Linked DNA regions of Homo sapiens. The protein of the gene in region 2 binds, or shares a complex with, the protein of the main gene of each other region. Each region holds a gene or a part of one and is shown on either strand. Other genes may lie near its edges.

What was found.
Region 1: the proteins of EDNRB (region 2) and GNAI1 are in contact, whole or in part, in a cryo-EM structure (PDB 8XWP), measured with the Homo sapiens proteins. Residues at the interface, in NP_000106.1 of Homo sapiens: Asn134, Pro136, Ile140, Asp198, Arg199, Ala202, Val203, Trp206, Ser207, Arg208, Ile209, Lys210, Ile212, Met296, Met300, His314, Gln317, Arg318, Val321, Thr324, Val325, Leu386, Val389, Ser390, Lys391, Phe393; in NP_002060.4 of Homo sapiens: Ala31, Arg32, Glu33, Lys192, Asp193, Leu194, Glu318, Tyr320, Phe336, Thr340, Asp341, Ile343, Ile344, Lys345, Asn346, Asn347, Leu348, Asp350, Cys351, Gly352, Leu353, Phe354.
Region 3: the proteins of EDNRB (region 2) and EDN1 are in contact, whole or in part, in a cryo-EM structure (PDB 8XWP), measured with the Homo sapiens proteins. Residues at the interface, in NP_000106.1 of Homo sapiens: Pro88, Pro89, Ile94, Glu95, Ile157, Asn158, Lys161, Glu165, Asp166, Trp167, Val177, Pro178, Gln181, Lys182, Val185, Phe240, Ile243, Met245, Tyr247, Leu252, Ile254, Leu256, Leu257, His258, Pro259, Lys270, Lys273, Leu277, Trp336, Leu339; in NP_001403492.1 of Homo sapiens: Cys53, Ser54, Cys55, Ser56, Ser57, Leu58, Glu62, Cys63, Val64, Tyr65, Phe66, Cys67, His68, Leu69, Asp70, Ile71, Ile72, Trp73.

The regions. Positions count from the first base shown.
Region 1 is NC_000007.14:80,137,831-80,147,569, forward strand, and holds part of GNAI1 (guanine nucleotide-binding protein G(i) subunit alpha-1), read left to right. Parts: intron 1-9,739. UniProt on the Homo sapiens protein: Guanine nucleotide-binding proteins (G proteins) function as transducers downstream of G protein-coupled receptors (GPCRs) in numerous signaling cascades.
Region 2 is NC_000013.11:77,914,302-77,924,906, forward strand, and holds the start of EDNRB (endothelin receptor type B isoform 1 precursor), read right to left. Parts: upstream 4,531-10,605; 5' UTR 4,324-4,530; coding exon of another isoform or gene 4,273-4,323; coding exon 3,790-4,272; intron 1-3,789. UniProt on the Homo sapiens protein: Non-specific receptor for endothelin 1, 2, and 3. Mediates its action by association with G proteins that activate a phosphatidylinositol-calcium second messenger system.
Region 3 is NC_000006.12:12,285,512-12,295,294, reverse strand, and holds the start of EDN1 (endothelin-1 isoform 1 preproprotein), read right to left. Parts: upstream 4,935-9,783; 5' UTR 4,666-4,934; coding exon 4,602-4,665; intron 2,955-4,601; coding exon 2,786-2,954; intron 1,355-2,785; coding exon 1,199-1,354; intron 1,035-1,198; coding exon 891-1,034; intron 1-890. UniProt on the Homo sapiens protein: Endothelins are endothelium-derived vasoconstrictor peptides. Probable ligand for G-protein coupled receptors EDNRA and EDNRB which activates PTK2B, BCAR1, BCAR3 and, GTPases RAP1 and RHOA cascade in glomerular mesangial cells.

The DNA.
Region 1 (9,739 bases), on a different chromosome or scaffold from region 2:
CCAGAGTTCCATCACCCTAGTCCTGTAAACAGAATTCTGGCTTACTTATTCCAGAAATTCAATTCTTGGAATGTTCGAAAACATTGTTTTCCTAATTTGACTTTAGTAGTAAATTGTGACCTTTTGGTTCTTTTTTGAATCCTTAAAGCATATGTGTAAGCAGCTAAATGAAATAATTCCATGTAAAACACGGCAGTAGAATAAACTAGAAATGTAAAATCGTTTCTAGGTAACGTATAACCAGTGTCACAGCCATTTACATTAGATCGTGTTCATCTTCACTTATTCTGTTTTTCTCATCACATGATGTTTTTTAAATTTAAGGCATAAAATCTCTAAAGTACTTTTAAGACAGTCTGTTAAATATATTGCATTTTTTTCTTAAGGAATGTATTGTCATTTTAAACAGCTGGGCTGAGTAATTTAGATATGAGACTTGCACACTATTAGTAAAGATTTTGGCACTGTCTATATGATTTAAATCAGAGGTATTTCACTATACTGAGCAGTGAATTAGGCCTTAAAAAAAGAGGAGCTAGTCTAATCATTGACACTAAGGAAATCAGGCCAGAGTTTGGGTTGTTTGTCTTTTAGGTTTAGTTTTTATGCTTATTAGGATGATAATACTTAATAGAGAAACATTTTAAAGAAGTAAGTAATAATGAAAGTTTTTTATATAATAATGTCTAATTGTTGAGGAAATTATTTTTTATTGTTATATCTTTGAGAATGTTTTAATTTATCATCCTTTTAAGGGCAGTAAGATTAAGCTTATGCTTTATTTCGGTAGGTAACTATAGTATACTACTTGTACTTATGAAATATTATTTTATTATGTATTTGGAGGACATAAGATTTGACATACAAATAAATGATCATGAATTTATTTTCTGTTCCAAAGCTTTGAGCAGTATTCTCATTTATTCCACCTCACTGTCCTTCCTTCCGCTCCACTCCCCCTCATATACAAAATTCCACACCCTTGTCTCCTTCTTCAGCTTGGTTTAAATATTCCAGGTTTGGGGGAAAATGAGCTGAGGGATTGGATTTCTTCTGTTTGGTGGATATTTTTCTATTGCTGCCACCAGGCAGCCCTTTGGGATGCTGCATCATTAATCTTCACTCCTTTTGAACTTGCCCTGTGACTTCCCCTAGTTGAGAAATGTTGGCTATGCAGGGCTTTTGATTTTTCATTGCTTTGACTTTCTTAGAATTGGTTTAGGATCTTAGATGTCAAAAAGCCCATTTCCTTGAATAAACGGATCCGGTATTTCAGTATGGGTTGTGTGCTTCTTTCTCATGGCATACCTTGTATTAGTTACTTTAGTAAGAAGCCACAGGTTTTGGAATTGCTGATTTTTTTCTGTACCTTCTGTTTTTCATTTTCATATTCATAGTTCAAGTCCTTCTCTGCCTCTGGCAGCCTAATTCCAATAGGCTCTCTTGCATCTTGTCTTTCCCTCTAGCCTGTTCTTTCTACTGCAGATATCATGCTGCTTCCTTGCTCAGAAACCTTTGTTGACTTTTCCGTTTCCTGCAGAATAAAATCTTTTAGACTTGGCTTCCCTCTAGCCTTATACTTTTTCCTTAGGGCACCCTTCTCCAAACAGAAACTGTTGGCACATGTTAAAGCATATTTGCACTTGATTTCTGGTATTGTTTATCCTTCTGCCCAGCCTATTTTCCTACTGCTGTGGGCACTTTAAAGGCAGAATTTTTGTAGGTTTTCTTTGAATACCTAACAACCCTTCTATTTTATTATGTGTAAAATGGCTTCTTAATTATGTAAAATTATTATCTTGCTGGAATATAAACTTTGTGCTCTGCTGTTTTCAATATCAATGAGAGCAAATAACTGTCCAGCCAAATTATGTAAACAAAAAAGGAATAGTAAATTATGTGATGACCACAGTGAACACATGGCATCTAAAATCAAATTGTTTGGTTTAAGATTTTTTTTCATATTTATAAGAGCTTTTCACAGTCATTGTATTTGATAAATTAAAGTTGAGAAAATGATAATGGATATTCATTGGAGGAGGATCTGCTATGTTGCAATTATGGCACTTTGCCCTGCAATTTTTTTTTTTTTTTTTTTTTTGTAAAGGTAGATCTCATTTTCTAATTTTTATTTTTGGCCCCAATTTCTTTTTTTTTTTTTTTCCTTTTTTTTGACGGAGTCTTGCTCTGTCGCCCAGGCTGGAGTGCAGTGGCGCAGTCTCCGCTCACTGCAAGCTCCGCCTCCCGGGTTCACGCCATTCTCCTGCCTCAGCCTCTCAAGTAGCTGGGACTACAGGTGCCTGCCACCACGCCCGGCTAATTTTTTTGTATTTGTAGTAGAGACGGGGTTTCACCGTGTTAGCCCGAGTGGTGTCGATCTCCTGACCTCGTGATCCGCCTGCCGCGGCCTCCCAAAGTGCTGGGATTACAGGGGTGAGCCACCGCACCCTTTGGCCCCAATTTCTAATGCATAAAAAGTATGACTGTTGTTGAATGTCTCAGTGATAGGAAACATGCCTATCTTACAGAATTTAATAGATGTTATTTAAACCTGAAAAAGACTGCTGTAATTTTTTAAACAGAAATTGTGTATTCAACCACAATCAATTTTTATTTTGTTACACATGTCTAACTGCCTTGGAAAATTCTGTGTACAACAAATTCACACAGGAAGACCTGAGTGTATTTGAGTGTGTTTGTTGCAGATTTCTTGGTCACATGTTCTGGCATGCAGTTAACCAATGTATGACTCCCCAGAGTATGACACAGTGAAGTTCAGATCCCAGACTCCATTTGAGTCTTACGAACTAAGGTCAGCTCTACCTAATCTTTTAGTGCTCAGACTGGTTTCTGTCATAACTTGTTAGTGCCAATTAAAAGCCGTAACGGAAATAGGGCAAAAAATTTTTTTTAATGAATGTTCATTACCATAAACGTAGTGACAACACAAAATTTATTGTCATACAGTTGTGGAGGTTAGAAGTCCAAAAAGGGTTTCCACTGGGCTAAAGTCAGGTTGTTGATAGGGCTTCTTTTCTTCTGGAGATTCTAGAGGAGAATCCATTCCCTTGCCTTTTTCAGCTCTACAGAGGCTGCCTGCTTTCATTGGCTCATGGTGCCTTCTCCATCTCAAAGCCAGCAATAGCTGGTGGAGTCTTTCTCATGTGGCATCACTCTCCTGCCTCCCTTTTTCACTTGGAAGGACCCTTGTAATTACATTGGGCCCACCCACATAATCCAAGTTAATAGTCCCATCTCAAGATCACATCTGCAAAATTCCTTTTGCCCTGTGAGGTGACATATTCACAGGTTTCAGGGATTGGGACATATTTATCTTTGGGGACCATTATTTTGCCTTCCACAGTCCGCCCTCTGGCTCCCAAAGGCTCATGTGCATCCTGCATGCAAAATGCATTCACCCTCTCCCAACATCTCCAAAAGTCTCAACCCAATACAGCCACAACTGACTGCAAAATCTCAACCAGGGCTCTTGATCTAACTCAGGAATAGGTGAGATTCTGGGTGTAATCCATACTGGGACAAAATTCCTGTCTGTTTGTGGACCTGTGAAACTAGCAAACAAGTTATCTGCTCCCAGAATATGGTGGGTCAGGCATAGGTTATCATTAAATGGAAAGAAAAAAGGAGTCTCTAGTTTTGAGCACTTTCAAAACTCCTTTAGGTTTCAAGGACTGGGGATAGTTCTCTGTGACTCTTTACTCCACCCTGTGGGTACTGAACTTCTCCACTCTTGGGAGTCATCCTTCTTTTCTAATGAAGGGTGTAGCACCTGTATGCTGCTGATTACTTTTATCAGCCTGTTTCTTGCCTCTGGAATTATGGTGGTCTGACAGCATTATTTCATTTCATATTCTTTTACTTCACCTTTTTCCTGTCCCGTTTTACTGTAACCAGCAAGAAAAAACAAAAACAAAGAACCGGCCACATCTTTAATACTTTGCTTGGAAATCTCTTCATCTTAATGTCCAGGTTCATAGCTTACAAGGTCTGCTTTCCACGTAACTGCTGGACTTAATTCAGCTAAGCTTTCTGCCTGTATATAGCAAGGATCCCCTTCCTCTAGTTTTTGATAACATGTTTCACCTTTCTTCCCATCCAAGTCCTCATCAGCAGCAAATTTAAGCTCCATGCGTCTAGCAATAGTATGTTCATGATAATTCACATATTTTCTAAGGTGATAATGTGTCATCTACCATGCTTCTCACTTCGTTCTGAGCCCACACTGGGAGAGACATTAACATCGTATTTCTATTAACAGTATGTCAAGACCACCTAGACTTTTTCTATTATGCTTCTCAAAATTCTTTTAGCCTCTGCCCATTGCCCATTTCTGCATTTTTAGGTGTTTGTTATAGCAGCACCCCATTTCCCATTATCTTCATCAGTATCTTATATATCACTTTTGAAAGTGCAAAATAATTGTAATTTTACATTCTCCAGTCCCTCATAATTTATGTGACTATCATGGTAACACTAAAAGCACCAGTTTCTTACATGTCATATTGAACCCATGGTGTTACTCAAGTCGTAATGTGAAAGAATAAAGCTTTTCTTTGCCTCTTCTTTATTGACATTTTTCCTGATCATCCAGTCTAAATTAGTCTTCCTTCGTCTCCCTTCCTACTAATACCATATTGAAATCATCTTGTACTTTTATTTTTTATTGTCTGTTGCCTTTCTCTATGGCATTGGCCCCATCAGAGCATGAATCTTGTCAGACTTATCATCTGATGGGATGGCACATAGTAGCTGTTTCATAATTGTTGGTTAAATTAATGGATAAATTGTTGAACATTAATTTTGACTAGTTTTCTTTTAAAGGGAAAAATTGGTACATATTCTTTGTGCCTTGGGTATTTTGAGTGAATTTTAGCCCAATATATATCTTGCTGGTTTAGAGTAATGAAAACCTACTACATTATTCCTAACACATTTCTAAAAAGTAAACTAATTTTGGGGACCATATTCTTGTTGCATGATCAAAATCATGATTCTTGGTAAATAAGTGGTAGAGTGAAATGTGATTTTCATATTTGAATATTCTGGGAACTTTGTTTTTAACAGTATTGCTGCCTTGCTGTTTCACATGTTATTTTGCTGCTTTCTTAAAATGCATACACTATTGCAATGTGGCATTTAATATATACTCACAACTATATATTTCACACAGGATGATGTGACTCTGGTAAACCTCAGCTTTCAGGAGCCAGCAGGCTGCTCAGAGGCTCACCAGCAGACTGTTCTTTATGTCTTGCTTGTTCCTATGTGGTGAGGATGATCACTAGTAGCATTTGTAAGATGTGTTCCATGCTTTTCCTGTCAAATTACGCATTAGCCTTACCAGATCCTTAAGAGAATTTACAGTCTACTTGGGGAAATACAATATATACATAAAGATAAGTCCTCATAATGTCAAATGGGGAAGAAAAAATAAAATAGATACTAGGTAGGGGAGGTGAGTGTCAATATTGGGACTTCATTGTTGATCTTGGGGGGTGGAGGTGGAGGTAGCTTGCCTCTCAGATATTACTTTGGTTATAAATCTGTCAGTTGTTTTCATGTATTTCTGAACCTACTATTTAACCCTTACTGGGTGTAAGCTTTGTGTTGTATGGAAACTTATAATGTAGAAGAGACTTTGCTATCTATGAATTTAGTTTTCTAACATTTTCCATGTCTAAGGAATTTTTTTCCCCTCCAAGGTTTATTTAGCTCTGTAGAAAGGCTTTCCAGAGAGGAAAGGTGAGTTGACTTAGAACTCTGGTGGTAAAAGTTTTCCCATGAGACCTTGGGCAAGTTACCAAATTTTATAAGCTTCAGTTTTTTCTTCTATAAATGCTGGATAATAAATATATCTACTTCATAGGGCTAGTGACAAAGTAAGCTAATGCATCTGAAGTACTTAGAATACTACATGGTACATACATTCTTAATAATTATAGGCTATTATTATAAATACTTCAGAGACTCTGTGGAATCAGCCCTCCCTTGCAGTTTCATCCATTTGTGGTCATAGACATTAAATTCTTTTTATTGGCTTTTCTTAGCAAGGATGTGTGTGTGTGTGTGTGCGCGCGTGTGTGTATCTATATGTGTGCATATATGTGTGTGTGTGTATATATATAGTGAAGACTTCAAGAAGTATAAATTCAGTTTTAAACATTAGTTTCTAATCCCACCGTAACTTCCTTGAGGGACTTGGATTTCTCTTTAACAGCCTCCTTACTGGGGCTAGACCAGGTAAATATCTGTGCTGTGTTAAGAATTCTATAGAGAATGCACTTTACATAATCAGAAGATTTTACAAATGTTATAGCAGTAATTTTCTCTTCATTTTATTATCCATTTTTAGAATTAGTGCAGTGGCTTTTTGCAAACTTTTTTTTTTTTTTGGAAAATAAAGCTGTTAGTGTAAATTATGAAACGTTAAGTTTATTCAAAAGATGGTGCCATTTCTCAGAGGAGTTTGACAACTTTCCACAAAATATAAAATCCTTTCTAAAACTTCCTGCACTGTTGACTCAAAGAGATTCCTGATAGAACTCCAGGATTATAACGGATTTACTTTTAGGAGAAGAATGTCTTTAAAAGTGGTGGTAACCTTAATAGAGAAACAGTGAATTGTTGAATCTGTGATAGTATTTGTGCCTTTTAATAAATTGTAAAATGAGTTCCTTAAGACTTACATCTTCAGTTGTATGAAACTCCTCCTGTTACCCTTGCCTCACTAAAGTACAATCCAGAATTTTTTCTAGTAACTGATCTATATTATTCATTTTTCTTGTTTGGGCACATACATCTTATTTGACAGCCGTTGCTGAAGGCTTACTAATTTTGTTCTTCATGGTATTTAAGAGGGATGGAACTTGTAAGTAAACTTACAGTTATAATCAATATAATGTAGTAGGAGTTAAACTGCCTTCTTATATGGTTCCGAAGTTAATCTAATTCCAAGAATTACATTTATTTCGGTATAGCTTGAAATTGATCCATGTATACTAGCTCACTTAAGTTTTCACAAACTGAGCACATTCAATCAGCAATCAGATCAAGAAATGTATGCAAGGTATATTTTGTTACTGTAAAAAGTAATGGTGGTCAGTAAAGTTGCTGGGACTATAAGATGGTGCTCCTCTAATTCAAGACCAACACTGAGCACTTGCCTCCATCAATTCGTCCTCTCTTGCCTCCAGCACCTTTTTCCATCCACCTGATCCACTAGCATCTTCATACTGCTTTAAAGACTCCTGTGTCCTGGTCTCAAGTCATGCCTAGCTTTAAAAGTGATAAAATCCAAGTAATACACCCCTTAAGTAATTTTTAATCTATTTTTTTATTTAAACTTTTCAGAATATTCAGAAAAATAGGCAGTGTTCATATTTTTCCTTTTTCACTTTGCAGTCACTCTTTAAATTACTTTCTGCTTTAAATTATTGACTTTCTGATTGATATAGAAGTATTGAGAAATAGGCAGTCATGTAACCATATCAATCTATATATTTTTTAAAGAGGTAATGTGGTGTTTATTCCCGTGTACTCTTCTCCTTCTGGAGTTCCTTTTATATGAAGGTTGGGCTTCTCATTCGAACTTAATTGTAACCTCTTTGTGGTTTTTATCTTTTTGTGCTACTTACACATTTTCTAGGTTCATTTTTATCCAGTTGGTAATAACTAATCTACCTATTAATAGATTGAGCTTTACATTTTAGTGGTGAAATTTCTATGTCTAAAAACCATTTCTAATCTTTAGCTTGAAAAAGTGTCTGTTATTCTACTTCTTTATTTTCTGGCTTTTTCAAAGCCATTTTCATTATATTGTACCTATTTCATAGTCTGAAAAACGATTTTTGAAGTTCTTGAGCTTCAGCTATTTATGGTGTCTTGACTCTGTCTCGAGGTAAATTGTGTCCTCTTATAATTTTTCATTTGTGAGCATATATTAAGCAGTACGTTGTCTGTGTGAATCCTGTACACCCTGGGTTGGCTGCAGTTTTCCTTTCAATCTCGTGGATGCTGTGTCCTTCTTACTTGGTTTTTCCCAGGCAGCCCTTTCCTGTAGAGCCAGTATGAGGTAGCCAGGTTCTCAGCTGTTTCGAGTGCTTTGCCTTCTCTGGTTATCTCAAGCATCAGGAAAATTATATGTTGCATACATTCCACAGAGGTCCCATGGTGATGGGGAAAGGTCAGCTCAGGCATTCCCTCTGCTTAGCCACACTTCATCATACTGCTTGGATACATGTTGCTGCCTAGGAGACTTTCTTAACCCAAACAGGCCCCACTGCCTTTAGCAGTTTCTTCATCTTCTCTGACATACAATTCAGCTTTGGCCCAGAGTGGAGATTAAGATATGGGTCTGACTCTGCCTCTCTTTTCCCTGTGTGACTGCTCCAGTTGCTCCTAACTGAATGCCCTGTAGCTCCCAAGCTTGCAGGCTCTGCCATGGGATGCCTGGGAAAGTAAGGCACTTGTACTCTTCCATTTTTGTCTGGATGATACCAGTGTCTGCCTCTTCTCCCATTATTCATGTAAATGCAAAAGAGAAAAAAAGCACTTTAATAATTTTCAAAAATTTCTCATATTACATTCTCTATTGTGTCTGGCTCTGAAGTTAGGTTTTTGTGTTTTTTTCCCACAATTATTCCTACTGTATGTCCTTGCTGCAATCCAAGTGCTGACCTTATTTTTTTAGAGCTCGTTCTTTTTAAAGTTAAACTTTACTATGCATAGAAGTAATTTTGAATCTTTCAAAATGCAGATTCTCATTGAGTAGGTCTGGGGTGGGGCCTGAGATTCTGCATTTCTCATAGGCTCCCGGGGTGCTTGTATTGCTGAGCCACAGTCCAGTCCATCTCAGAGTCCTAGAGGAGGTAATCTTCTCTGGTTCTTTTCCATTTATCCATTTCATAAGCATTTCTCACATCTTATCTGGCCTTTGCCACATTCATGAAACCTATCACTTTATCAGTAAGGTATTTAAAACACTGCCTTGCACAGAGTAAACATTCATCATGTTCTAGATATTCACATGTACATGAACACACACATATCTATCACACTTAATATTATTGCTGTTTTATAGTTAAACTTCTTCTAATGTCAATCTAGAAACTTGTTTTAGTAGTGCATTTTGAGAGAAACCATTTGGTATCATCTTGCATGGAAACATCCGCTTCCTTAGGAATGACCAAAAACTATAATTAGTGATAATGAATCTTTTATGATTTGGCAAGAGTGTTTTAAGTGGAGTTCTTTTGATGATACGATTGTTCAGGTCAGGCTGAAAGAGCCCCAATAATAATGTTTTTCTGACTGTTTTCCTCTGGTAATGTTTGTGATAAAATTCCTTTGTCATAAATAAATATTGTTGCTGGTGCAGACTGAATATTTGTATTCCCCCAAAATTCACATGTCGAAACCCTAACCCCCAATGTGATAGGGTTTGGAGATGGGGCTTTTGGGAAGTAATTAAGGTTAGATTAGGTAATGAGGGCTGGTCCTTCATGATGAGATTGGTATCCTTATTAAAAAAAAAAAAAAAGACACAGGAGCTCTCTTGCTTGTACCAAGAAGTGGCCATATGAGACATAACTCAGTGAGGGCCCTCACCAAGAACCAGACCATTCTGGCCCCCTGATGCGATCTCCAGCTTCTTGACCTATGAGAAATAAATGTTGTTTAAGCCACCCAGTATAGTTTTCTGTTACAGCAGGCTTCACTG
Region 2 (10,605 bases):
CACATACACACATTTTAATAACATTTATCATTTCTTGCTATATGCCATGCCCTGTGCCAAATGATAGTCATCTTTTTACTTATATATTCTTATAAAACTTAACATTTTAATGTATGTACATGTACACGTGCATATATATTTAAATAAATATCTCCTTTGGATGCCTGAAGTTTTCATTGTTCTTCTGGTTGGTGTTGTGTAATGTAGGCATAGCCCTAGTGTGTGCCTATGAGAAGCGTAAGCAACGCTTATTATTTTCTGCATGTTTACATGAGTTTAAAGTTCTTCAGCAGCCTCAACTTGCTAAGTGTCCTCAGACACTTCCCTAGCCTTCAACACAGGATTTCACCCACAACACAGGAGACCTGTGAGAGTGGTATGATTCTTCCTAAAAGTTTCCAGGGACCCAGCTCCTTGAGGAAGTCCAGGCAGATCAGACATGTTTCCCAATGCTTTTCAGCTTCCCACTGCAGCAACTCCAGATAAAGTCCCACCAATTCCACAGCCTGAAGACTGTAGCTTCCAATAAGAGCTATGACATTTTGTGATTTGTCAACTTTACTGAACTCTATATTCATTAAACTCTAGATTAATGGAATAGATTCACATTGACATTTCTGGGCCTCTGGGCCCTTAGTGTGCCAACAAGAGAGTAGGAGAATTTCACAAACCCCCAGAAATTGTGTATATTGAATTCTCAAAGAGAATTATAAAACCCCACCAAAAAAATTAGAAATCACTGGTTTAGATTTAAGCCTCTCATATTAGGATATATTAAATATAGCCTTCATAACTCATTTAAATTACTTTTTTCTGAATGATCATACCTGACTACTCTGAAATTCTAAATGCATTAAAAAAACTACGTTGCCACAATTATTTAGGAGAATAAATGGCTTTTAACTGGTCCTGGATTTGATATTTTGGTAAATTAAGCCATTAGAATAACTTCCACTGATATTACACACTACAGACCAGCTGAAGGGGGTTTCAAGAGACCGAAATCCTGACTCAAATTAATTTCTGAAAATGTTTACCAAGTATTCTACTGTGGGATAGCATATTATTTGCCATAATTCCACCAAATGCTCCCAAATGAGATCCTAAAACAATACTCAAGGTTGGAGATGACCATGCAGTGCCTGAGCATGCTTTGTGCAGTGGGATGGGGTGGACCACAGGGTCTTGGGCTGGATGATCTGCTTTCAAGCCCCAGTTTCATTACTTTGTAGTGGTATGACATTAGGCAAGTTACTTCTTCACCTCTCTGACAAGTAGTTTGCCTAGATCTAAAGCAGGAATGATAACGATACCTCCTCTACAGGGTTGTTATAGTGACTTAATGAAATAAACCAAGTGCCTAGTGCATCATTAACTGGTAGCCATTATTATGATATTGTGTCTCAAGCTAAACCTAAGGCCACAAGGTAGGATTCAATAATGATGACCTTAGTGATGGGACGTAATGTGATGAATGTGTTTGTGACCCATGTAGATTAATGGATGGACAGATTTATAATGACTCATTGGCTTATTTCAGAAGTAAAAACACAGTCATGTTAAGACTGGATGGCTTCAGGGAAAAGGATGTAACTTCCTAGGGAAATCATATGGGAGTTTGAAATGAAAGGGAAACTGTATGACCTCTTGGGGAGTCAGAAATTCTCTAGTTTATTACAAATACTCATTTAACCAGACAGAGGAAATAAGATGGTTCTGGAAGAGCTGATTTATATCTGTCCTGGAGGCAGCACACCAGAACTAAAAAAATGTTCTCAATCCCACCTTCTACACAGCACTTCAGCTACTGTCTGATTTAGAAAGGTTTCTAACTGGGCTGGACATGTGGGGTTTCCTGACCCCCTAAACAGAACTTTCATAAAATCCTGTGCCAACCTAGCAAAACTAGATTTTAATCTCCCTTTGGGAAGAGATCTTGTTAGATTTATTTTAAATTTATCACAACACCTTGTACTGAAAAGTTCTCAATTCGGTTTTGATGAATTGAATTGAAATTCCTTTGCCAAATTAGAATGGGAAGATTTAGTTTGTGGGACGCCTTAAGAAGTAAAAGGGTCACTTCTGGCCCTCATGGAGTTGTGGCTGCATTTAGAGATTCAATTTCAGCTCTTACCAAGTAAATCCTCACAGTTCATCAGAATCAATTGCCATACAGGATTTTAGGATTTCTTCAATCGATTCCCCCATTTCCGGGGGTGATTCCCTTTAGAGAAAACTATATCCTAATCCACTCTCACCGCTAAACCTCAGAAATGTTCGGAATTCCCCTTAAAATATAGCTATTGGGTTAGGATTTTTAGAGATTTATGAAGGGAAATTTACAGGCATGCCTTATGGTAACTACTCCTGCCAATAGGTCAAAGCATTCCCTACAACATTTCCCAACTTTACATTCCATTTTTTTCCCCTTGTACTGAAGTACTGAAGTCAGGGCTAGCTATAGGCAAATCTGCAAAGCACAATTCCATTTCCTTACACTGTGATTGTGTTTTTATGTGCAACTTTCTATTGCTGCTGCTGCTGCTGCTGCTGGGAAAGTTTTAAATATTTTCATATGTCTTTGAAATTTTCCAACTGTTTTATTTAGACTGCTTTTTTTTTTTTAACACCATAAAGCCTCAGTAAGTGGGCACTGGCAGCCTTATTGTGGAATTGAGGAAACTGAGGCCCAGAGGTGCTGGGATGTGTCTGGAGTTCCAAAGCAACCTGGAGCAACCTGGCTCTTTGTGTGTTTCTACTGACGCCCATGGTAATCACACAATAATGTTAACTACCGAAACCCTTACAGATTTTGAGTGCTCCTTGGTCTTGTCCATGAAATAATTGATGGGGTGCCATCATATAGCTTGCACTTTGGAACCTGACAGATTGGGTCTGATCCCCAGCTCCACCTCTAATTCATTTACTTTGATCATCCTACCAGTCATCTGTAAACTAATTGTAATATCTACTTGTGGGCTGCTGGAAGGAATAATGGAAGTAACACATCTCACCCAGTCCTTGGCCCACTGTAGATATTTAATACAAAGTAGCTACAGTCCGTCACAGCAGGTGAACTGTGTTTTTCCTACTCACCAGTCTGGATCTCTTTTTTCCAGGCCATTTATTTCCTAAATACCTACTTTGTACCTGCTACTTTCAAAGTCTTCCAAAACAGTCCTTCCCAAAGTTAGTGGGCATATCAATCACATGAAGATCTTAAGATGCAGATTCTAACTTAGTAAGTCTGAGGTAGCCTTGCATTCCTAACAAACTCTCAGGTAATATTGATGCTGACTGTCCATGGACCACACACTTTTGACTAGAGGATGTACCCCATTAGGTGCACTTAGGGACTAGATCCTTCAGGACTAGTGGTTCTCAAACTTTACAGTTCATCATAATCACATAAAGGGCTTGTTAAAATACAAATTACTGTGCTCCACTCCAGAGTTTCTGATTCAGTAGGTCTGGGGTGAGGCCAGAAAAATCTTCATGTGCACCAAGTTCCCAAAGTGATACTAACATTGCTAGACTGGGGACTACGCTTGTCCTAAGCTTAGCAGAGGTCTACTGAAGACCTGAATGGAATTTTATTCCAATGGTTACTGACTTTTATGAGTGGACAGAACCAAATGGAATTTGGTTCCAAAGATTACTGACTTTTAGGAGGGGCAGAACCTTAAGAGGGAGCTAAAGGGAAGCTCCCTCTACAAGCTTTCTCATCTCCCCGTCTCCAACCAGGCCCCCTTCCTCAAGCCCACCATGATTTCAGCAGGCGCCCTTTACCTTGTAGACATTGATAGGGATGTCAATGACGATGTGCAGCAGGTCTCCCAGAGCCAAGCTGGCGATCAAGATATTGGGACCGTTTCGCATGCACTTGTTCTTGTAGATAATTCTCAGAAGTGTGGAGTTCCCGATGATCCCCAGCACGAACACAAGGCAGGACACAACCGTGTTGATGTATTTGAAAGTCTCCTTGATCTCGATGGGTCCTTGGCACGGGGGAGGGGAGATGGTGCGTGGCGGAGATCCTGCCGTCCTGTCTCCTTTAGGCACCTCCGCAGGTGCCAACGACCGCGCCAGACTGGCGTTGGAACCCTTGGGCCATAAGGTCTTAGTGGGTGGCGTCATTATCTCTGCGGTTTGCAAAAGCGGAGTGGCCCTGTCAGGCGGGAAGCCTCTCTCCTCTCCCCAGATCCGCGACAGGCCGCAGGCAAGAACCAGCGCAACCAGGGCGCGTCCGCACAGACTTGGAGGCGGCTGCATGCTGCTACCTGCTCCAGAAGGCGTCCGGTGGCCGCTCCGCAGTTTCAGAGCCTAGAGACAAGCAGAGGAAGGAAGACAGGACACTTGGGTCAGCTGCCCGAGCCAAGTCGCTGCAAACGCTAATACCGCCCGCAGCCTCTTCGCCAGTATCCACGCTCAAAAGTAACTCAAGTTTGCGCGCCAGTGGGAAACTTGGCGCTCATGACTCGCCAGCGCGGGTCGAAACTCCTTCCTGATGCCCTCTCAGCTGTTTTTCTTCCCCCGCGTGGCCAGGAGGGGTAAATAATATGCAGTGGGGCGGGGCGTTCTGGAAGGGGTGTGCCAGGGAGGGAATGATGGGGGTCCCAGGCAAAGCTCCGAACTCTTTCACGTAACGGGAGGAATACAGACACGTCTTAGTTAAGCGTGCGTGGGAACCGCGGAATTAAGGCACCTAGAGGCCAAGGGCTTGTGTCAAGCTCTGCATTTTGCCCCGCAGGGGAACCTCTATACCCCGCGATTGAACTCGAAAGACTCCTCCCGGCGGATGAAAGCCGCTACTCCCTGGCTGGCTGAGCTACAGCTCCCGCAGCGCGCCCAGGAGTGCGCCGGAGATTCGGAAACCCGCAGAGACTTCTCAAGTCAGCAGGAACTTGGAAACCGCTGTTCCCTCCAAACGGCTTCAAACACTCGCGCTCCTTCCTTTACCCAACCTAATTTTAATTTGCCCTCTCTATAGGCTTAATTTTTATTTTTTTAAAATCCCAAACTAGTAAGCCAAACCGAAGCCCCAGAATAAGGTTCAATCAATGATTTTAATTCAACACCAAGCCCGAATGTTTACCTCTCGGATCTGACAAACCAGATGCAGAGCGACGAATGGAGACCACCTTCCCGGGAGGCGGAACCCAGCTGGGTTCCAGCCTGCTCTGGGAGAGGAGCACGCCTCCCTTGAGCTGCAGGCGGGTCCGGCTCTGACGAAACGCTGCGAGAATGCCAGACAGTGTAGCCTCCACCGTTTGCTCGGGGTCTCTGCTGCCATCAGACAAGTACTTTTATTCATTCATCCCTTCCCATCAATCACCGCCAGACTCCTCCCGCGCCTTCCGACCCCGCTGCAACCTTTCCCCTTGGGCGATGCCTGGACAGCATCAGTAGTAGTTGCCCGAGGGAGGGGGGCAGTCCTCGTCCGGGGACAGGTCCCAAAAGGCTGTTTATTTGTTAGAGTTCTACGCTCTTCAAATGAACCCAAATCAAGGGCAAGTTATCACGCACCATGTGACACCCGGCAGCTCCAGACTAGAACAAGGCTCTGCACTGAACGTGATAATTGAACTTTTAATGCCAAGTGTCACTTTTCTTTCAGGTAAATGTTCCGCCGCTGTGATATTTAAGGTTGGTTTGTGGGCGCTGCTCTTTGCTCTGCTTCATTTTGCCCTGAAGTTTCATTTCAAGCCAACATTAACCCCAACACGGAACAGCTCGATCTTTTCTTCCCAGGCCCTCTCACTGCCCCGAGAGAGGATTACAAGTACTCCTCATTTTCCCCAGTACAGCTCTTCTCCTCTCTTCCTGCCACAGTATCGGTGTTAGGCAATCTCAGGCATTTTTATACTGTACCTATGACAGACTTGATGCTTATCGGAGACATGAAAATAATCAGAAAGCTGCCATGCAAATTCAACATGATATTTATTTACCAGGTAGAGCAATACAATAAGGTCTTTCTATCCATTCTTGAGCTCCATGTTTACCGCAGAGAGGAAAATAACAGCGACTGGTAGTTTTGCCCAGAGATTGTATAAAAGAGGTCAGGAAGTCAGGCTTGGAGATGCACTGGAGAGTACTGTGCCGTCCTCCAATCAGCAAAATCCCTACTGGATCTGTGGAACTTCAAACCCAGAAGCACCCATTCCATGTAGCAGTTTCACCCAGAGACAGGAGGCTCGTTTTTTGCTTCATGTTAGTTAATGGAATAGATGGGACAAGAACCTTGGATTTTTGGCTCTTAGGCAATGCTTTCTGGGACAGTGGAAGTAGAAAATCAATTTCTATTTAAAAAGGTGAACTTTAAGTGTGAAATGTGGTTAGGAACATGGTTACGGAGTAAGGCTAAAGGAATGAGAAATATGGTCTAGGGTTGTGAGTGCTAATTCCAAATCTGGCTATTTTGAATTGCAGTCCTTATCCTCCCTGTCTCGTAAGAACGAGGTCAACATTCAATTGCTGAGCCAAGTAACAATATACAATGTTGTCTGAATAAGGAATTATATGGAAGCTTTGGAATATGAATATTTTGCTTAGTTGACTCCACCCAGTGTTGGATCTGCCCTTCCTATACAAGCTTTGTTGGGTTCATGCCTATGGCTCCTGTGGGGTGACTTTTCTCTCTCCCCACTGGCCTTCTCATCATCTCCATCTCCATTCAAATTTCCTCCACTGAGTCCTGGAAGTCTGCTCTAATCCTCACTGAGGTCTATCTCTTTACTTTTCTTGGAGCACTTTTGGACTGTTAACCACAACTTAGCAAGCACTTGATCACATAAGAGACATCTATGGGTCACTATTGATTTCGTGTGACTTAATTTCTTTTACAGGACAGGGACTTGAATGAGTTATATGTTCTTTCTGCACCATCCCACTACCTGCCACAAAATGAGCTTAAGAAATATTTTTTATAAATTGATAATGATATTTTAAAGTATTCAGTTATACTTTATTAACTGGTCATTGGGCTCAAGAATAAGGCCAAACAATTTTAAGGTAAATATACACATTCCTCATTTGGAATTTAAAACACAGTATCAGCTACTCCTTACAGGGTCTACCACCTGCATTAGACACCTTTTCACAGTACCTCATTGATTCTCTGATGTTTGTCTTCCAGCTCTGTATTATTTTCTATGATGTTATAGGCAGTGAAACTGAGTCTCAGTAATTCACTTAAGGTCATGTGGCTAGTTAGTTGTGGGACCAGGATTTGGAGCTAGGATTTGAATGCATGTCTAAATGGTTACACAGACTATGCTTTTTATTATTGTAATTGCAGAAAGCCTAAGCAAATTTTTTTCTTATTTTGGGGAAACAGTGTTCTAGACATCAGTAATATGCAATTGAAGTTTAACCTTAAATATTTCACCTTAACATGTAAAGACAACCATGTGAAATGTAAAGAATTGTTCATTGATCTTCATGAATGACTGGGTGTCAGTTTCCCCTTTTGTAAAATGGAAGAAAAGGATTAAAGTTACTTCTTGCTCCAATAAATCAGTCCGACTGACAAACTGCCTCTGTAGGAGTGTCTTAAAGTGCAGAAAAGTGGAAACAGATTCTAGGCCAATATTTTTTTTTAATGTTACTTTCATTACTCATGCCTTGAGCAGTACTGCTATGGATATAGTTTTTTTTTCATCTTATTACTTAAAATCTGTTATCGATAAATTTTATTTATGAATTCACTAGCAACTAACTACTATGTAAATTTCACTTCTATATATGAGCAAAAAGTTGTATCAAATTTTAAGAATTCCTACCTGCAAACTTGTGAACTAATTTTGCATTTATGAGAGGATTTTTTTTTTTTGGCTAGGTAAATGTGGAGTCTTTTACAAAGTTGCTTATTTTAAACGTTTATGAAGTGTCTAGGAAATCTATCAAAATTCCAGATTGGCTAAGATCACTTCTCAAAGTTAGAAAGTTGAAGATAGACAATGTCCCAGTATTTCCTTTAAATGCTTTATCTAGAAGTTCCTGAAGACAGGGTTTAATGCAATTCGGAATTCATTTCTCAAAGAGGTTTGCCATGGGGAGCATTCCCAAAATAAACCTTTTCGCCTGGTGACAGAACAAAGAAAAGCCCTTTTAGCCACACAAAAAAGTTAGTACTTTCATGTAATCCTCTTGAAATGAATGTGCCCTCAAAACCTATGTTGAACTCTCTAAATCATGAATGCTGAGAGACAAGGTGTGCGAAAAACACAGAAAGAGTTGGTTCAACTGGTTCTCCACATATTCCTCTGGGACCAGATTCAATGATCAAATAGTGGTTGAAGTAAGAGAATAAAAAAGTTTTAAAGTGACTGCAAAAGTCAATAGCAAACAGCATGAGAATTTCTATTTCTTGAGTTTTCTTTTCTATTAAGTGACTGTAGCTATCTGGATCCATGATAAAGAATCTTTTTTAATTAAGTATAATGTATGTACAGTGAAATGGACAGGGCTTAACTGCAGCTTGAAGAGTTTTGCCAAATGTTTGCAATCCTGTGACCCATACCTAAGGGGCTCTTTGAAAATTCATTTATTCTTTAAAAGTGGTAAAATTTGAATATTTTAGATTTGGACGCTATTCCTGTTAAAACGCTCATTAAGACACTATTTCTGCTTTATCAACTTATCTGATACATCTTATCAGCTTCTATAACTAAAATGTCACTCATAAATTAGAGGTGTGATTAAATGAGAGAATCTGACATTTGAAACGTTATCAATGATTGCTTGATGGTACCAAATTACACTTCATTCCCTGATGTAATTAAAATTTGATAGGTTTAATGTAACTAGAAATAAGACTTCATTAATTCTTTTCTGCCTATAGAAAATATGAGAAACAGACAGGATACATTCTTTTTTTCTGAGAAAAGCAACATAGTTCAGCTATTTTAGGCTATGGTCTACTTTAATTAAAATTAGACAATAATTTGCTTTCCTACTTATAACTTAAGTAATTTTTATATTCCTTTCTTTGACATATTTTTTTTCACCAATCTCAGTAAAACAAAAAATGAGTGTAACCTGGTCTACAAACTTCTTAAAACTGTTCACAGAACTTTTGTAACAACTTTGAAAAGATATTAGAAATTCCAGTCTAAGAAGGCAGTCGGACCTGTGCCGTCTTGGTTTGTCAATGCACACTGTATTTATTAAATTATTCTTAGGCCACTCAGTAATGGAGAAAACACTATCATTACTGTATGTCAGCACAGTCTTATCATGTGTAATGCACTCTTTGGGGAGTTGTTATTTCATATGGAATATAATTTATAATGAGTTTATGTATTTTCTGTGACTCTAATTGTTTTCTTTAATTTTTACCTTTCCTTGTTTCCATTCTTTTGATACCTGAATGAAGTGTCCAAAGAGATGTGAAATAGTCAAAATAGGTTAGAAAGCAAAAAGAAAGAGAAACTTGGATCTTTAGCTATTTACTGGTAAATAAAAGAGAGGTACTTTTTTTTTTTTTTTAAAGAAAGTAAAAGTTATTTGTAGTACAGAATAGAATGTGCTAGGAGAGTCCAAAAAGGAGAATTCCCACAGCAGGCTTTTTTTCTTCTTCTTTTGTTTTTAACAACTGTACTTAATCAATGAGATACTTTAAATTTCATTTCTGCTAATTATTAAGCTCTGGTAATGGAAATACCTTTTAATCAAAATCTGCCAAAATCTGTAAAAAGTTTCCGATTATGCTTTGAGATTTAATTGTAGGGGAATAGAACTATTTGTATGAAAATTTAAAGGGAAACAATGATTTTACTGAGTGTTTATTTACTATACATTAGATGAACAATTTAACTTTCAGGCCAAGAGTCATGGCATGCTTTTGTCAAAGCGAGGGATCATCTGGGGCTTGCAAAGCCATGCCAATTTCATAAGGCGATTTTTGCTTATCTCTTTTAGTGATGCATGTATAGCAAATTGCTTCTTCTCTTTTGGGCCCTGCTAGAGAGAACAATTATTGCTATCCGTGAAGAAAGTGATTCTGAAATGGCTTTACCAGCTGTGAATTATCCAAAGAAAATTACTCACAGAATCTCATGGGAAATGCACAGGCGACTTACTTCTTATGAGGGCAGCAGATAATGCAAAGCTGGCATTTGAGGGGGACATGGCCAAGGTAACAGGTGCCAAGTACCCTGCAGAGAGGTAGGCAGAATATAGAAATGGGAAATCCAAGAAGCGGTTAATTCCTTGAGTATCTTTTAATGTGGTAAAAAAACACATAATATAAAATTTAACATCTTAACCATTTTTTAAGTGTACACTTCAATTGTGTTAAATACATCTATATTGTTATGTAACAGATCTCTGTAACTTTTTCATCTTGCAAATTTGAAATTTGCTATTAAAGAATGATATGGTTTGGTTCTGTGTCCCCACTCAAATCTCATCTCCCATAATTCCCATGTATTGTGGGAGGGACCCAGTGAGAGATGATTGAATTATGGGGGCAGGTCTTTCCTGTGCTGTTCTCGTGATAGTGAATGGGTCTCACGAGATCTGATGGTTTTAAAAACGGGAGTTGTCCTGTACAAGCTCCTTTTTGCCTGCTGCCATCCACCTAAGATGTGACTTGCTCCT
Region 3 (9,783 bases), on a different chromosome or scaffold from region 2:
GCTGCCCCACAAATCAGTAGTAAATAACTCAGAAGTAGTTCATGACTGCCTGGCCTGAGCTCAGAACACTTTAATCATAGAACTTCTTGCCACTGGATTTCTAAGAGAAGTTTCCATAGACCATGATAGAAAAATGCAGAACATGTGGTAGATCAGAGAGTAGGTTTCCTCCTTTGAGCTTGTGAATTCCAAAAAGTTTAGGATTTGGAAGGGTTATCACCAAAGAGCAGCTCAGAGCAACTCTATGATGTTGCCTAATCCAGATCCCTTCTCTGTCCCAGCACATGACTGACCAGGAAAAGAGAGAGCTTTTTGGAATGACATTGGCTCTGCACCAAACACATTTCCCTATTTAAAAAAAAAAAAAAAAAAAAGACCATAAACCTGAAAAACAGCATGTTCTAAATTCTACCAACCCTATCTAATGACTTTATTTTTCCTTTGGCCATCTGAATAACTGCAACTTATTGAAGAATTTGATTATCCATGACACTTTGATTCTTTTTCTAAATGTCCGCTCCCCAAAATGATTTTCGATTTCTCAGGGAAAGTGGTAAATACATTGACTCAGAGAGGCAAAGGCTGTATATAACCCAATGACAAAGGCATCTCTGGATATATTTTGGTTGGGAAATCTACCTGTAGATGAAATGGTATGTGCTAAAAGTACAGAGGACATCGGTTTGCATTCCAGAGCTTCATGGAAATATTTAAGAGGGATTCTTTTGCTCCTTTTAATCTATAGGATGCATAGATCTCCTCTGCTACTGTTTTCTAAGTCTTTCACCTGCCCGGGTAAGAAGGGCTGGAGGAACAGGCTGCTGGCATCACTGACTGGGGCTAGTTGTTCTTGTGAACCTCTTACCTAATTTTTCTTCCTTCCCTCTTACCTGGTTTGTCTTAGGTGTTCCTCTGAACTTCTTCTGATTTTTCTTCCTCTCACTAACTGCTGATAAATACACTTTTTCCCAAGCTTGGAACAGTCTTTTCCTTTCTTATGATTATTCCAGTCTTTCTCCATAATGTCTTCAGCCCTGTTAAAATACACAAGGAAAAACATTTCAGCAATGTTATATTCAGCTTTACCCTGACTTTCAATGTCTCTGTTAGTCTCTCTAAAACAGGAAGGCAGTACCATGATAGGAAGGAGTTCAGGAGGCTGTTAAACTGATTGAAAAGCAAAGGTGTTTCTGCTCACCTGAGTTCTTTTCCTGCTTGGCAAAAATTCCAGCACTTCTTGTCTTTTTGGCTAGCACATTGGCATCTATTTTCACGGTCTGTTGCCTTTGTGGGAAGTAAATTCTCCAAGGCTCTCTTGGACCTAGGGCTTCCAAGTCCATACGGAACAACGTGCCTATTATCCAAAGAGAGAAAGAAACTATATTAGTGTAATTAATAGTCTTTAAAATGACACATGGACACACCTATTCCACTGGGCACACAAGGAGCTCATCACATAGCACTTGGGAGCATCATTTCAGAGGGTAAAGTGTAACAACAGCCAGGAACACCTGTGCATCAATGGCCCTGACTGTATGTATCCAGGCAGGAGAAAACAAGTTTTTCTAATTCAGTGGAATTCCATTTCAACTCTTCACAAAGTTCAGTTTCTTCTTGACACAAGCAACATTGCTTTTTTGTCAAAAATTAGGACATCTCTGCTTGGCATCTGCTTTATATTTTCTTCCTTTTCTAATGGTCTATTTAGTTAACTATTTGTGGGTACACAGTGGGAAGAGGTTTCAATGCAAAACCATGACTCACAGGATTTTTAAAACTTATTTTCAACTCAAACCACGGAGGATACTGCTAAAAGTGCCACCGTCACCCCACCGACCCCAGTGGTTGGGGGAGGAGGAGGCACATGTTCACACATTTCTCCTGCCAGTCGGTGGTACCATATGGTTGTGGAAGGACTCATAGCCAGAGGGCTCTCCAATAATTTCCAATGTGTCCATTTTCATTCTCATCTAAGAAATAAAGTCCTCCCTTTGGAAGTATCACCTTAGTAATTATTAGGCTCCTTGTGGTTTTTGGTGTGGTTTGATATTGTTTGGATTTTGGTCCTCCTTTGTCATAACGGTACATTGTATGCATAGTAAATGTGTGCTTGTTTATGACTGCTTCCGACAGATGATGAACTAGTGTCCAGGGCAGAAGGAGGAAATCTGCTTTTCTTCTCTGTAGGTGAAAGAGAAGCCTATGGACAGTATTTCTATTTCAGTTCTGAAATGGGCATTTCTAAAGGGAAAATATAGCAGCAAAGGAAATCCGGGCTCCAGTTCTAGCTCTGCTACAAACTCACTCCTGCACAAATGGCTTCAACACTTTGAGCCTAGGTTTTTCTGTAAGTAAAATTAAGTGATTCTAACCCTCTATATCATCACTTCTGCCTCTCAGTCTCCACCCTCCCATGAGAAGCACAGGTTGCACTAACCCACATCTGACCTCGGCAATTATTCCCGAAACCCCATCAGATGCCACTGTGAGAGTGTCCCCCTGAGGCCCTCTCACTGAAAGTTCCTCATTTGAAACGTGCAGTGGCCTCCTGCTTGTCCCATCATGAGTAGCCTGAGCTACGGGGCCTCAGAAGACCCTCCCCTTGGTTGCTAAGAACGAAGCTGTCGTTATTTTCAGGAATAGAGGGAAACTGTCCCCACTGAGGCACTTGGATGGTGTTAGAAGGACTACCTTCAGAGTCCCTAGAAAAGAAACTCTAAAACTGGGCTCCAGTGGAGCCAGCGCTAATGAATGACTAGGGTTACAATGCCCTCTAGAGACTTACTCGGGAGTGTTGACCCAAATGATGTCCAGGTGGCAGAAGTAGACACACTCTTTATCCATCAGGGACGAGCAGGAGCAGCGCTTGGACCGGCGGAGCCGCCAGGGTGGACTGGGAGTGGGTTTCTCCCCGCCGTTCTCACCCACCGCGCTGAGCTCAGCGCCTAAGACTGCTGGGGAGAGAAAGAGCAGGTCAGTGGGGGATGTCTCCTCAAACGCCGAGAGACATGCTGGATCACAGTAGAGTCAGAGCTAGCAGAGCAGATAAAAGCAGATGAAGCACACAGCCTGCCATCAGCAAGAAACACAGAAAAAAGGGCTCTTTATTTTTTTCCCTCCTTAACATGAGTTCACCTTTTGCCTCCCCCTCATGCCCTTGGCTTATCCACCTTCAGGGAGATTACACAAATGCAGAGGAGATAAACACCTGAAAAGGGACTTCCCCCACCCCTCTTGAAGCAGGCTCAGGGAAATGCTGTGGAATGCTGCCTGTTGAAAATCCGGCTGGCTTCTACAAGGAACTTGGTAGGACAGCACTATCCACTGAAGCTTACTTAACATTGGCACATGACTAAAGACAAGAAATCACAGTTATTCCTAGCTTTGGGGCCACTTCCCCATTCAGGATGACCCTCTCTTTAGGGGGTACCCATCCACTTCACATGCTGTGTAGGGCACAGGGTACCCCAGATGATGTATATCTTTCAAAATTAGGTGGGGAAAATGATTGGAGAGAGAAATTAACTATTCAATATTCAATTCAGGAGGGTAACTCCATAGAAACCAGTGACCTAAGGTGGGGCTGAGAAGCAGGTCAGGGGACTGAAGGTAGGCTGGGGGGATTTTGAATTCCGAATCCCTGGGCATCAGGCTTGTGTGGGATCCACTGCCTCCCCCTTCTCCACTACTGCCTTGCCTCTTCCTCCTAACAATTTAGCCATGCAGCTTATCTGCCCAATTTTGTACATTTCAAATGATCAGACACATTCCAGGATTTTCATTCCCTTGACATCCTTTCTCTTTAGTCAGGGTCACGAAAAGACAAAAAAAGTGCACTGACCCTAAAAACGGGGGGGACCCGGGCAGATGCACACGCACTGCCTAAATCCTTCGGCAGCCAAGAATTATCCTAGCTCCCCTCCCAGCACAGGTGAATAAAGCTGAAAAGAGAGCTCACACTGTTTTGGGTGCCAAAAACCTGCCAAAAGAAACCTAAAGTCAATGATGACAAATTTTAAAGAAAACATCTGCTTCACCCAGAAACCGCCTGCGGGGGGTGGTGGCGGGGGGGGGGGGAGGCGGTAGTTAGTCAACAGACTTTTGCTCTGCAGGTGATTTTACTGAACATACATTGCTTGAACGACTGGATACAATTCCTTGGCTTCAAGCTGGAATGCTTAAATATTTTACACGTTAACACACTATTAAAATAGTGTTTAAATAAGATTTAAGTTCCTATATGGCCTGTGTACCTGTATAAACACATATATTACAAACATACATTTGACTAAATTGTATATGTCCATACTCTTCTCATTTTTTAAAAGCCAAGGAAACACATAATGGAATAATAATAATAAAACGATAAGTTATTTTAATGTCATGTTATAGTCAATTGCACCTAATTGTATTCAATAGAGGAATTTTACATTTTACACTAGAAGACTTAAAGTAGCTTTCAGCAATAATTCTCAGACACTTGCTCTCTAAGCTGCAGTCATAAAAAGAACGGGGAAAAATAGAAGCAAGAAAAGCATGAAGGTGGATAAGAACACACTAACTTGTAATTCCGAGACTTACAAGTCAACGAGCGTGCCTACCTGTTTCTGGAGCTCCTTGGCAAGCCACAAACAGCAGAGAGAAAATCATGAGCAAATAATCCATTCTGAAAAAAAGGGATCAAAAACCTCCCGTTCAAACTGAACCCAAAGGAAAACGAAGAAAAACAGCTTCAGGTCCCTCAAAGCGCTGCGGGTTCCTCAGATCTCAAAGCGATCCTTCAGCCCAAGTGCCCTTTTAACGGGGAGAAAAGGCAGCGCCTGCCAGGAGAGAAGGCAGCGAGCGGAGCGTCTGCAGGCGCACGCGGCGGTGGAGAGCTGGGACTGCAGGAGGCGCAGGACCCGTTCGCCTGGCGCAGATGCAGAGGCGCGTCTGACTTGGACAGCTCTCTGCCGGCTTTTTATATTGAACCCCTATTAGAGTGGGGGTAAACAGCTCCGACTTTATTCCAGCCCCAGACAATGTTATTGTGTTATTAGTCACCAACAGGCAACGTGCAGCCGGAGATAAGGCCAGGCCCGAAAGGAAATCACTGCTAACTTCAGAGGCAGACGCCCGCCGTCTGACAATTCGGGGGCAGGGCTAAGAAAAAGAAAATACCCATTAGAGACCTTTGCTAAACCTGCCCGTGCAGTGCTGGAGTCCGCTTCCCCTTTGCAAGCTGCCAGCCCCGGAGTTCAAGAATCAGAAGAGGGGACTCCAGAAAAAAAGTCATACCATTGGTATGAAAAGTATGAGCCACAGTTTAAATAGATTGTATTGTTGTGTGCGGGGAATTTTTTTTAATTGTTGCTCGCTTCATTTTCCTTTTATGTCTCTCCGATTCTAGTCTCAGTCAAACAAGGGAATGCTCTCCCTCGTCACTGCCCCACTACTGGGGGTCAGACTATTTTGGCAGATCAACGTACTTTTCTCTTCAAGCCCCTTCCTGCGGGTCTTTTTTGCTGAAGTTCTTTGCATCTATCGGAGAAAGATCCGTGAGGGATTGGCAAGAAAGGGAGCTTAAAAATAACATCAGAGCTCGTTTAGGCACATGCCCAGTCTTTTCCCTATCACTGATGAGAAGCCCCGATAAGTTCTTTTGTGTGTCCACACTTCCCCTGCGGAGGAGGCTGATAAACTGATTGAAAAGCAAAGGTGTTTTTCACACAGAACTTAAATCTTAAGATTGGTCGGTGCCACCAATCTTAAGACATGGCGGGAGAAGAACACCAGGGGGAGATGAAGAGCTACAGGGGCTGATGTTTTACTAGGACAAAAAGGAAAACCCTTCTAAATGGCAGAAAAAAACGCAACCTGGCTTGGGGGCCGAGGAGGGTCAAGGAATGTTGCCTAACATAGGAAGGAGGAATGCACCTCAGAATATTCTATTTATTCCCCGCACAAGCAGGGACATATTTTCTGGGACTCTTTTTTTTGGGGGGGTGTCTTCATTTAGGGCAAAAAGGTGTTCTTGTACAAGGTTAAGTGAATATGCAAGGAAGGTGGTGCTGAGAAGGAAATGCCATTCGAACAAGGAATCAGATAATACTTCACATTTAATAATGTGTTTACATTTTCAAAACAATTTCCTGTCTATCTAACCTTGAAATCCCCCCCTGAAGTACACACAGGGCAGTTACTGTACAGGTGACATCATGCCTTAATAAAGAAAGCAAAAGGTGCATGGAACACATTGGCTTTTTCCGCTAGTCCCATTTTTCAGGTTAGACAACTGAGCACCCAGAATTTTTGTTTGTTCTCCACCAAAGCGCTCACAGTGGCCCAGTAAGACCTATGGGATAAATTTAGAGTCTCTTCCCAGGGGATGCCATCAAATACACACTTTGTCCATCTCCTCTTTTTGTTTTACTCCAGTTTTTCTGGGGATGGAGGGTGGAATTCAAGCACGGATGAATTTCCAAGACTGGCACAACACACATGCTGGGAAACCTTTTTTCCCTCCTCCTTCTAAAATCAAAAGGACAGTTTTTATCCCAACAGCAAAGCCGTGGGTTTGGACAGACTCAGATCCCCAGACCTCCCTCGAAGTCACAGCTGGGGGAACAGGGACAGTGGCAGCGACAGGTCCATAATGACATGCATCCTCTAAAAGAGCCACTGAAGCAAGAGTTGGAGATGGGAGAGAGAGAGGCAAGAACTCTCCCTCCCACACCCACACCCACACCCACACCCAGAGATGCCTCCACCCTATCCCCAGGGCCTCTGCCGGGGCCCCTGGCCTCCGCTGTGCGCTTACCTCAGCCTAGCCCCGGGGCCCAGGGAGGCCACAGCTCCCGGAGGACAGGCGGCACTGAGCCGGAAGCCAGCGCTGCCGCCTGTGCCAGGCAAGGGTGCCCTGACCTCCCTCTCCAAAGCCGACCTTGGGAGAGGAGAGGAGAGCTGATGTCACATTCACAGGTTCCAAGCAGCGCCTCCCCCCCAACACTCCCGCGGAAGAAAGGTGGCCTGGGAAATATGTCTTGGCAGGGACTCCCCCTACTTTTTTTTTTTTAACCTTTTGGCAACTTTGACCAAACACTGACAACAGTCAGGACCAACATGTTCTCAAGGCCCCTACCCGGAAACCACCGCCCATGCCCTCCCCAATATTCTCAGGTCCAGCCTGGGTTCTACTTCAGCTGGAGTCCCTTCTCCCACCCCACTCCACGCCACCCCACCTTGCTGAGGCTGCCCCTGCAGGTTCCAGCAACGCCCAGCCTTCAGGTGGAGAAGTGGGGCAAAATGAAACTGCCCAAGCGCCTCCAACAGCACTCACCACGCCCCGTCTGTGTCATCCCGTGAATATGAATTGGAAACACAAAACGTGGCCAGCCATCCGCCCACACCTGGCCCTTCTCGAGCTCGGGGAAAGTAAATAGTAAGGAAGAATGCAGGATTTCAGACCTGGAAGGGCCCCACCGTGCCAAATATAATGGTGCCCCTGTCTCTTTGAATCCTGAATTTGCAAGACGTGTGCCTGCGCGCGCGCGCGCGCGCCTGTGTGTGTGTGTGTGTGTGTGTGTGTGTGTGTGTGTGTGTGAGAGAGAGAGAGAGAGAGAGAGAGGGAGAGAGAGAGAGATAGGAGAAGAGAAGAGAGAGAGAGAATTTCCGTGTCTTTTTCTTTGTGTGTCAGGGGCGAGGGGTGGCACCTGCCTTCTCTGTCCATCTCTCCATTTCTCCCTCTGGCAGCAGCTCCCTTTTCCTCCTGTAGGGGCAGAGGGAAGCCCCATTCAAGCCCACAGAAGGCAGCTAGGGCACTGCCAGGCAGCCTCCCAGCAAGACATTTTCCCAAGAATCAAGAAATGAGGGGAGAAGGAGAACCCCAACAAACCAGTTTTACAAGCTTGATGCCCCCACCCCTCCTCCACTTAAGGCACTGCTAGACAGAGATGCGGGGAGAAGAACTAGAGGTGAAAAGAGCTGGACAAAGGAGTGAATATGAAGGATAGCTTCATAGCCCCACCCCACCCCTCAGAGGACTGCAGGGGGAAAATGCTCCTTTTGGCCACAGTCACTCTCAGAAAGGGAAGGGAAGGAAGGGAGAGATGTAAAGAGGAGGATTTTTTTTTTTCCCCAATAGAAAGTTTGCTGTGGCTGTTCTTGCCTTTTTTTTTTTTCTCAATTTTAATTTTTTTGGGGACAGGGTCTCACTCTGTCTCCAAGGCTGGAGTGCAGTGGTGCAGTTATAGCTCACTGCAGCCTCAACCTCCTGGGCTCAAGTGACACTCCTACTTCAGCCTCCTGAGTAGCTGGGACAACAGGCTCAAGCCACCATGCCCAGCTAAGTTTTAAAATTTTTTCGTAGAGATAGGGATCTCACTATGTTGCCTAGGCTGGTCTTGAAATCCTGGCCTCAAGCAATCCTCTTACCTTGGCCTCCCACAGTGCTGTGATTACAGGCGTGAGCCACCACTCCTGGCCTATTCTTGCTTTTGAGGCTACACTTGAATGCTGGAAAGTATTTGATAAAACTATTTTTTATGTATTTCTTTCTGTATCTCTGTATTAATAGATATCTATAAATAAAACATGCTGAGCCCCCAATACAGATACTACACAGTAGCAAATTGTACTGTTTTTAGCATTCTCCAGCTTTCCTTTCTCAACTTTTGCGTAATAAAATTTGTAACTTTGCCAAGCCAATAAATTTGGTATGAGATGTTGCATTTAGCTCAGCAAAGCTAACAGTCGTTAAGTTGCTTGAAAATCACACAAAGAATGAGGAAGTATTTTATCATAGGCAAAGTGAAGCTATCCACACCACTAGGCCTGATTTAGTCTTGGGTTGGTAACTATTATACATTTCTACTCTATGTAGCACTTTTGTGAAAAAATGTGTAATATAGTTATTAGGCCTGTGACACATCACACATCTCCAGGAGCTATGAAGAAACACAGCTTCTCCCTATAGTCCAAAAAATAATGGTTGATTTAGCACAGGAAATATGATGGTCAATGTAAATTCATCCTGTACATTTTAAAAACATACAACATATGCATCTCTATTTCTTGGACACTCATCCATAGGATAATCATAGATAGCAAGTGTTTATTTAAAAGAGTATTTCCAATTCTCTAATCTAGCATTTCCCAAAGTTCAGTTATTCATTAAACTGCTTCACAATTTTTACCATATTTGGGTGCCACCTGTACATTTTTACTTAATATTTTCCTTTTAACTGACTTGTTTCTTTTACATGAATAATTTTAAGAAAATTTTATATCATTACTATCTTAAGCAATAATGTACATGAAATTATGGTTGGTATGCTTAAATAATCCATATGAAATCATGGTTGGTATGGTTAAAAAAACTACATGAAATCATAGTTTAATACATGCTAAACATTTAATCATTATACATTCATTAAGCTATTAAAAATAAAAATGTTTGGCTGGGCATGGTGGCTCACACTTGTAATCCCGAGGCCGAGGCAAGTGGATCACCTGAGGTCAGGAGTTCGAGACCACCCTGACCAACATGGAGAAATCCCATGTCTACTAAAAATTCAAAATTAGCCAGGCATGGTGGCGCATGCCTGTAATCCCAGCTACTCAAGAGGCTGAGGCAGGAGAATCATTGAACCCGGGAGGCAGAGGTTGTGGTGAGCCGAGATTGCGCCACTGCACTCCAGCCTGGGCAACAAGAGTGAAACTCCATCTAAATAAAATAAAATAAAAATGTTCGTACATGTATCTTCTATGCCCACACAGACATGCTCACCACCCTTGGGGAACATG